Regions from separate parts of the Homo sapiens genome. Here all the other regions are linked to region 2. Evidence: fine-mapped QTL for protein levels in blood plasma. Region 2 holds a variant in brackets. A gene starts in each other region. All regions are shown on their forward strands.

Region 1 (2,500 bases), not on the chromosome of region 2:
ATTAGTATCCTGCTCTTACCCTAGCAGAGAGTGGTTAAGTAAGTTGTCCATGGTATCACAGCTAGTCAGTCACAGAGCCATCATCCAAATGCAGATATCCTGAATTCAGGTTCTACATTAGACTAACCCACCAGGAATGGAGCAGGAAAGAACAGGGAAGACTCCACATTTTTGGCCTCTATTTGGTAATTATAGTTAACTTTTTAGGTAATTATAGACCAATTATCCTAGATGGGCACTTAGAGACTTTGCAGGACAGCAAGAGCTGTCTCTAATCCTGTGCCCATGACAGACATCACCAGTCAACCACAACACAGTATTTAACTAACGCAAGTCAACTCCTCAGAATCTTTAACATTCTTGTTTGTGCTACTGTACCAATCAATCAATTTGATATGAGAGTGTGCAGGAAAAAACAGGAAACAGGTTTGCAGTACCTCCACACCAGTATTCAATGCTGTAATCCGCTGCAGTGACTCCATTAAAGACTTTGCCTCCCTTATACCCTCTCCAACTAGGGTGCCTAGTGTTATGAACAAAGGGATATGTATAGGTTCTTGTGTTGCCTCTCTCTTTGATATTTTTAGCCATCAGATACCTTGTCTGCAATGTGTGCTCAGAGAGTGAGGGGGGAACTAGATGATTGATTTTCCAAATGTGTTCCCTAAATGTGTTCCCTGGGGAATAAGGGCACGAGAGGCTGCCTATTCTATTTCAAACAAATCCCCTTCACTACAGTGTATTTGATGAGTTGGGGTTTGTTTTAATTCCATTTGGAAAAGGGCTTTAGCAGCTAAGCAAATGGTTTTAAAGTGCCTCAGAAGTCAAGATTAATAGAAACTATCCAGTTCTGATGTCCTATCATGCTAAAATTTCAGGGACTAAGATTCTGTGATCATTACATTGAAACACAGCAGCAAAGCTGTGGTGTGTTGTCCTTCCTGGTTCAGAGATGCAACTATGTGCAGGGCTGCTGAGCTCTCTCTGCATCTGGGTGGGAGCCTAATGGAAGTTTTGGGGCTCCTTCCTGGTCTCCAAAATCCTCAAGACCACCATGTGAACACAGGAATCAAGGAAGGTTCTTAGATCGACTCATCCCCCAGGCCTTTGGTTTCCTTGCTCCTTTCCCCAACTACAGGTGTTTCATTTCAACTCATCCCCTAGGGCCTTGGTTTTCTTGCTCTCTTCCCCCACTACAGATGTTTAACTTCATTTCATAACCACATATTCCCCTCCTTTTCCAAGGCAAGATCCAGATGGATTAAAAAATGTACCAAGTCCCTCCTACTAGCTTGCCTCTCTTCTGTTCTGCTTGACTTCCTAGGATCTGGAATCTGGTCAGCAATCAGGAATCCCTTCATCGTGACCCCCGCATGGGCAAAGGCTTCCCTGGAATCTCCCACACTGTCTGCTCCCTATAAAAGGCAGGCAGATGGGCCAGAGGAGCAGAGAGGCTGAGACCAACCCAGAAACCACCACCTCTCACGCCAAAGCTCACACCTTCAGCCTCCAACATGAAGGTCTCCGCAGCACTTCTGTGGCTGCTGCTCATAGCAGCTGCCTTCAGCCCCCAGGGGCTCGCTGGGCCAGGTAAGCCCCCCAACTCCTTACAGGAAAGGTAAGGTAACCACCTCCAGAGCTACTAGGTCAGCAAGAATCTTTACAGACTCACTGCAAATTCTCCATTTGAAAAATAGGGAAACAGGTTTTGTGGGTGGACAAGAAATGCCTCAACCTCACATCCAGTCACTGGAAGAGCCAGAACTAGAAAGCTCCCGAGTCTTTTCCCCACATTCAAGAGGGTTGCTGGGTGCATCCATACCCAGCTATCCTTACAGTGTTTGGGAATGGGGAATGGCTCTGTCTTACTGTGGGCATGGTGGGCATTTTTGGCAGTGGGAGAGAAGGAAAATCTGTTGATTAGAAGCTCAGTATGTTAATTCGACTCCAGGACAGCTTTCAGAGACAGTGGCTAAGAGAAGAACGAGGTCCCAGGGGGATCTCTTGAGGTGACTTATTTTGACACTCTTTGGGAAAGTTATCTAGGAGATTTGTTCCATAACTCATTTTCCCATACTCTGGTGACAAATTTACTGAGTGTATCGGTCCCACTGAGCCAGTGCATAGCATGGTAACAAACAGTTCTAAATTATCAATGACTTAACAGAATTAACTAAATTAACAAAAGTTACTTTCTCACTTGTACTAAATATCTATAATGTATGGGCTCAGGCTTCTGCATTTTATACTCAGGATTCTAGACTGATGGAGAAGTTGCCCATGTGGGGGAACATTGATGGATACTGTGATAAAGCAGAAGAAAGCTCTCAGGAGTCTTGCATAGGCAATGCACTGTGGCTCAAAAATGACACCCATCACTTTGTCTCCTTCTTTATTGATCAAAACTAATTAATGCCTCCAACCAAACAAAAGTGGCCAAGAAATGCAAGTCTACCTTGTGTCTCAAAACAGAGGATGGAGAATATTTGGTGAAAATTAC
Region 2 (2,851 bases):
GAGGGGGAAGAAGCCACTAAAAAAGTGAAATGTGCTTGGGAGAATCGGCCTGCCTGCAGGGTAGATGCCCTTTCTCTCTGCTGGCCAGCTCTGCCCCTCAGTGAGAAACTTTACATATTGCTAAGATGCCTGGCCAATGAAACAGTTCCAGAGACTTTATGTCCCCCAGTAGAAATATGAATAGAAATCACCCTGTGGGCAATGGTCCCATTTTAAAATATGCTGTCCCATTGTCCCCTAGAGCCTACTTTAACTTGTCAGACCATGTATTCCACTTCATATGCAAGAGGCATGCACTGAGCCCATAGGTGGCTAGGCAAACACCCAATAGCTCCCTGAAATGGCTTCATTATGCAGCCTCGACAGCCACCCCAACCCTCCCACTCTCACACTGAAACACCCAGACCTAGAGATAGCTAGACACACCCAGACACCCGCCAAGCCCCTCACATACAGATATGTGCACAATGATACACAGCAAACGTACACAGAGTTCAGTACACACAAAGAGCTCACGCCCACGTGCACACACCCCTCAGTTGGGACAGAGTTGACCACCACCACCTTTCTCCCAAACACATGGCTTTTGAACTGCCTTTCCTTGGATCCAGTTCAAGGGGATGGAGGAGCAGTGAGAGTCAGCCGCCCTTCCACTCCAATTTCCCAGCACCTCCCTTATCTCTGCCTCACAAGTCACCCAGCCCCCCTCTCTTCCTTCCTTGTGCTTGAAGAATCTCTCCTTGCTGGAAAGCCCCCTGTTTTCTCAATCTCCCTTTCCACTTCGGTAAAATCTCTACTTGCTGGAAAGCCCCCTGTTTTCTCAATCTCCCTTTCCACTTCGGTAAAATGCCCACTTTCTGGTCCCCACCTTTTTCCTGAGTGTAGTCCCAACCAGCCAAATCCAACCTCAAAACAGGAAGACCCAAGGCCAGTGACCCCCATAGGCCTGAGGCTTGTGCAGGCAGTGGGCGTGGGGTAAGGCTTCCTGATGCCCCCTGTCCCTGCCCAGAACCTGATGGCCCTCATTAGTCCTTGGCTCTTATCTTGGAAGCACAGGCGCTGACAGCCGTCCCAGCCCTTCTGTCTGCGGGCCTGAACCAAACGGTGCCATGGGGAACTGTCTGCACAGGGTGAGTATGGGGCCAGGCCCCAGAGTCCCTTATCCCTATGCCCCTCATTTCCCCTGCTGTTTGCCCCTCAGTCTTTATATCTCTTCCTTTTCCTCCTCATCTTTTCTCCCTTCCTGCTTTTTTCCTCTTCCTTCAAAGTCTTTTTCCTTCTCTCCTTCCTATGCTAGCCTCCTAGCTCCCTCTTGTGTCCCTCCCTTTGCCTTTGAGTCAGTTCCATCCTGGTCTCTTGGTGCCTTTTCCTTCTGACCTTGCACTGCTCCTCCAGCCCCAGCTGCCCTGGCTTCCCCAGGACTGTTCCTGCTCCGGCTCTTCAGGCTCCCTGCTTTGTCCTTTTCCACTGTCCGCACTGCATCTGACTCCTGCAGAGACCTTGTTCTCCCACCCGACCTTCCTCTCTGTCCTCCCCTCCCACCTGCCCCTCAATTCCCAGGAGACTCTTCCGGTGTAACTCTGATGGCCTCCTCTGGGTATGTCCTCCAGGCGGAGCTCTCCCCCTCAACTGAGAACTCAAGTCAGCTGGACTTCGAAGATGTATGGAATTCTTCCTATGGTGTGAATGATTCCTTCCCAGATGGAGACTATG[G/A]TGCCAACCTGGAAGCAGCTGCCCCCTGCCACTCCTGTAACCTGCTGGATGACTCTGCACTGCCCTTCTTCATCCTCACCAGTGTCCTGGGTATCCTAGCTAGCAGCACTGTCCTCTTCATGCTTTTCAGACCTCTCTTCCGCTGGCAGCTCTGCCCTGGCTGGCCTGTCCTGGCACAGCTGGCTGTGGGCAGTGCCCTCTTCAGCATTGTGGTGCCCGTCTTGGCCCCAGGGCTAGGTAGCACTCGCAGCTCTGCCCTGTGTAGCCTGGGCTACTGTGTCTGGTATGGCTCAGCCTTTGCCCAGGCTTTGCTGCTAGGGTGCCATGCCTCCCTGGGCCACAGACTGGGTGCAGGCCAGGTCCCAGGCCTCACCCTGGGGCTCACTGTGGGAATTTGGGGAGTGGCTGCCCTACTGACACTGCCTGTCACCCTGGCCAGTGGTGCTTCTGGTGGACTCTGCACCCTGATATACAGCACGGAGCTGAAGGCTTTGCAGGCCACACACACTGTAGCCTGTCTTGCCATCTTTGTCTTGTTGCCATTGGGTTTGTTTGGAGCCAAGGGGCTGAAGAAGGCATTGGGTATGGGGCCAGGCCCCTGGATGAATATCCTGTGGGCCTGGTTTATTTTCTGGTGGCCTCATGGGGTGGTTCTAGGACTGGATTTCCTGGTGAGGTCCAAGCTGTTGCTGTTGTCAACATGTCTGGCCCAGCAGGCTCTGGACCTGCTGCTGAACCTGGCAGAAGCCCTGGCAATTTTGCACTGTGTGGCTACGCCCCTGCTCCTCGCCCTATTCTGCCACCAGGCCACCCGCACCCTCTTGCCCTCTCTGCCCCTCCCTGAAGGATGGTCTTCTCATCTGGACACCCTTGGAAGCAAATCCTAGTTCTCTTCCCACCTGTCAACCTGAATTAAAGTCTACACTGCCTTTGTGAAGCGGGTGGTTTCTTATTTTGTCTGGGGAGAAGAAGGAGAATGGAGAGAGAGACATTTTTATGTCAGACTTTCTTGCCAGTGTCTGCTTCTATAGCTGGCTTGGGAAGAAGGTGAATGATGAATAAATACCCTCAGGGTACACAGATGTTCTCTTGAGGTGTGGGGTCACGGCCATCTCAAGGGAGAAGAGAAGAGGAACCA
Region 3 (2,799 bases), not on the chromosome of region 2:
GTAGGATGGGGGTGGGGGTACAGGTGGGAGACAGATAGTAAACAGCAGACATAAGTAAGCGAATGGCCTAGCATGTCAGAGGATATAAGCATTTCAGCAAAAAAAAAAAAAAAAAAGAGCAGAGGAAGAGATGGGGATGGCATGCAATTTGACTTCACTGAAAGATGTAATCTAAACAAATACATATATATATTTATAATATATATAATATATATTATTATCTATAATATATATAATATATATTATTATCTATAATATATATAATATATATTATTATCTATAATATATATAATATATATTATTATCTATAATATATATAATATATATTATTATCTATAATATATATAATATATATTATTATCTATAATATATATAATATATATTATTATCTATAATATATATAATATATATTATTATCTATAATATATATAATATATATATTATAATATATATAACATATATTATATATAATATATATATTATAATATATATATTATATTATAATATATATTATAATATATATATTATATTATAATATATATTATATTATATATATTATATAATAATATATATATTATAATATATATATTATATTATATATATGTTATATATATTATAAATATATATTTTATATATATATAATATATATTTATAATATATATAATATATATTTATAATATATATAATATATATTTATAATATATATTATATATATTATAAATATATATAATATATATATATATATATTTTTTGAGATAGAGTCTTGCTCTGTTGCCCAGGCTGGAGTGTAGTGGTGTGATCTTGGCTCACTGCAACCTCTGCCTCCTGGGTTCAAGTGATTCTCCTGCCTCAGCCTCCCAAGTACCTGGGACTACAGGCACCTGCCACCACGCTCAGCTGATTTTTGTATTTTTAGTAGAGATGGGATTTCACCATGTTGGCCAGGCTGGTCTCGAACCCCTGACTTCAAGTGATCCACCTGCCTCGGCCTCCCAAAGTGCTGGGATTACAGGCGTGAGCCACCACGCCCGGCCTAAAAAAGTTTGAAAAAGGTGAAGGAGTGAGTCCTGCAGGTATCTGGGGACAACATTCCAGGCTGAAAGAACAGTCCGTGCAAACCTCCTCAGGAAGGAGCATGTCTGTCTGGTTGGTTTGAGGCATAGGGAGGAGGCCAGGGTGGCTGGGGCAGAGTGAACCAGGGAACCAGGAGATACAGGTGGGCAGAGAGCAGGGCACAGAACTCGCGGGGCCTCGTGGCTGCTGGAGGGTCTTGGACTTGTCCTCTGCGTGAGGTGGAGAGCCACGGGGACGTTCTGAACACGGGAGATTCATGGTCCCTCTGCTGCTGTGCTGAGAATACACTGTAGGGGGCAAGGATGGAGACAGGGAGAGCACCCAGAAGGCAGTTGTAGGAAGCCAGGGATTGATGCTGGTTTCTGGGTGTATTTGGAAAGCAGAGACATGAGCTCACCCAACAGATGGGAAGTTGGGGGCGAGAGGAAGAGGCGTCAGGGATAGCGCCCAGGTTTCTGGCCCTAGTAACCGGAAGGAAGGGGCTGGCAGAGAAGGAGGAGAGAGCAGGTGTAGGGGTGGGTGGGAATCAGAAATTCAGCTTCAGACTTGGGGGGTTGGAGCTGCCTATTTGGTATGGCGAGTAGGCAGCTGGACGTAGAAGGAGGCTGGAGTTTGCGAGAGAAACTTGGGAGTGGTTGGCATATAGATGATATTTAAAGTCAGAAACGTGTACTATTTGCCAGATATAAGCAGTAAGGCAGTTGATGCAAACCAAAGCCTTCTAATGTAATTATTGTTATTATTTTCATTTTGCAGCTGTAGAAACTGAGGCTCAGAGAGAAGTGACTTTGAGCTCACAGTGTCACCGCCTGCTGATGGGAGAGCTGAATTCAAAACCAGGTGACCTGACCTAGAGTCTTTGCTCCTAACCCCTCCACTGTGAGGTGACCCCCTCGCTGGATCTTTCAGGGCATGTGTTAGATGAGCGGTGGATGGACTTTGGATCAAGGGAAGATAATCCATACAAGAAGGGGACAGGAGTTTGGAAGCAGCAAACCAAGTCACAAAGTGAGGGGACGCACTGGCCCTCAAGAAAGCTCAATGTTGGGGAGCAGGGAGATGAGACTGAATAGGAAGGAGGGGCTAGATGGAAGGTACAGCTTCAAGATTGGCCTGAAAAGTTTTGACTGGATGGGGAAGGAAGCAGGGAGCCATTGACGGTTTTGGAGGAAGGGGGCATTACATGGTCAGGGCAGCCCTTGTGAAAGATCCACCACATGTGGGCATGCAGCTGATGAGGGAGGTGTCAGGAGAGACCAGAGAGGAAGAAATAGGCCCAGAAGTTTTTGAGACTCTCTGGGTGTGAAGGATGAGGGCTGAGCCAGTGGAGATGAGAAGGAAGCAAGGAAGCCAAGCTCCCACTGAAGACAGCGCTGGGCAGAGTCTCTGCCTGATGTAATGTGGGGGATGGAGGCGAGGAATGAGTCAAGGGCAAAGTTTCAGACTTGGGGGCAGATGGGGAGATGGGAAACAATGCTGGCTTGAACAGAAAAAAAGGAGGCTGGTGTGAGAGGGAACTCGGTTTTGCCCTTCTGGTACCTGGGGCTGAGTGAACCATAGCAGGACAGACTTCTGCTTCCCAGCAGCTCACAGGTTAGTGTGGGGGACAGAACTGCACAGAGCTGGCCAGGCTGCAAGGCAGAGAGAGCTGAGGGGTGCCACAGAAAGATGGGCCGGAAGGAGGAGTGTCCAGGTGGGTGTGTCTGATTAGTTACTGGTCAGGGC

Alleles and levels. Alleles are on the strand shown, and positions count from the first base shown. The strength of an association depends on the size of the effect and on how common the allele is.
For the plasma level of the protein whose gene starts at base 1,448 in region 1, G is the low allele of the variant in region 2 and A is the other (moderate association).
For the plasma level of the protein whose gene starts at base 1,845 in region 3, allele G in region 2 goes with a lower level than allele A (weak association).

Evidence for each region. PIP is the posterior inclusion probability: the model's chance that the variant is causal. The UK Biobank Pharma Proteomics Project read protein levels with antibody pairs (Olink). The fine-mapping took linkage between variants from a reference panel, not from the people measured, so its PIPs are less certain.
Region 1: it holds the start of CCL11, and the variant in region 2 is fine-mapped to the plasma level of the CCL11 protein (UK Biobank, PIP above 0.99).
Region 3: it holds the start of CCL17, and the variant in region 2 is fine-mapped to the plasma level of the CCL17 protein (UK Biobank, PIP above 0.99).

Annotation. Positions count from the first base shown.
Region 1 is chr17:34,284,295-34,286,794 of GRCh38, forward strand. CCL11 (C-C motif chemokine ligand 11) reads left to right here and starts at 1,448. Exons shown (of 3, transcript NM_002986.3): 1 at 1,448-1,590. The coding sequence starts at 1,515.
Region 2 is chr1:159,203,851-159,206,701 of GRCh38, forward strand. ACKR1 (atypical chemokine receptor 1 (Duffy blood group)) reads left to right here and starts at 1,025. Exons shown (of 2, transcript NM_002036.4): 1 at 1,025-1,130; 2 at 1,611-2,650. The coding sequence starts at 1,110. The coding sequence ends at 2,600. The variant G/A (reference allele first, on the strand shown) is at 1,714.
Region 3 is chr16:57,402,923-57,405,721 of GRCh38, forward strand. CCL17 (C-C motif chemokine ligand 17) reads left to right here and starts at 1,845. Exons shown (of 4, transcript NM_002987.3): 1 at 1,845-1,914.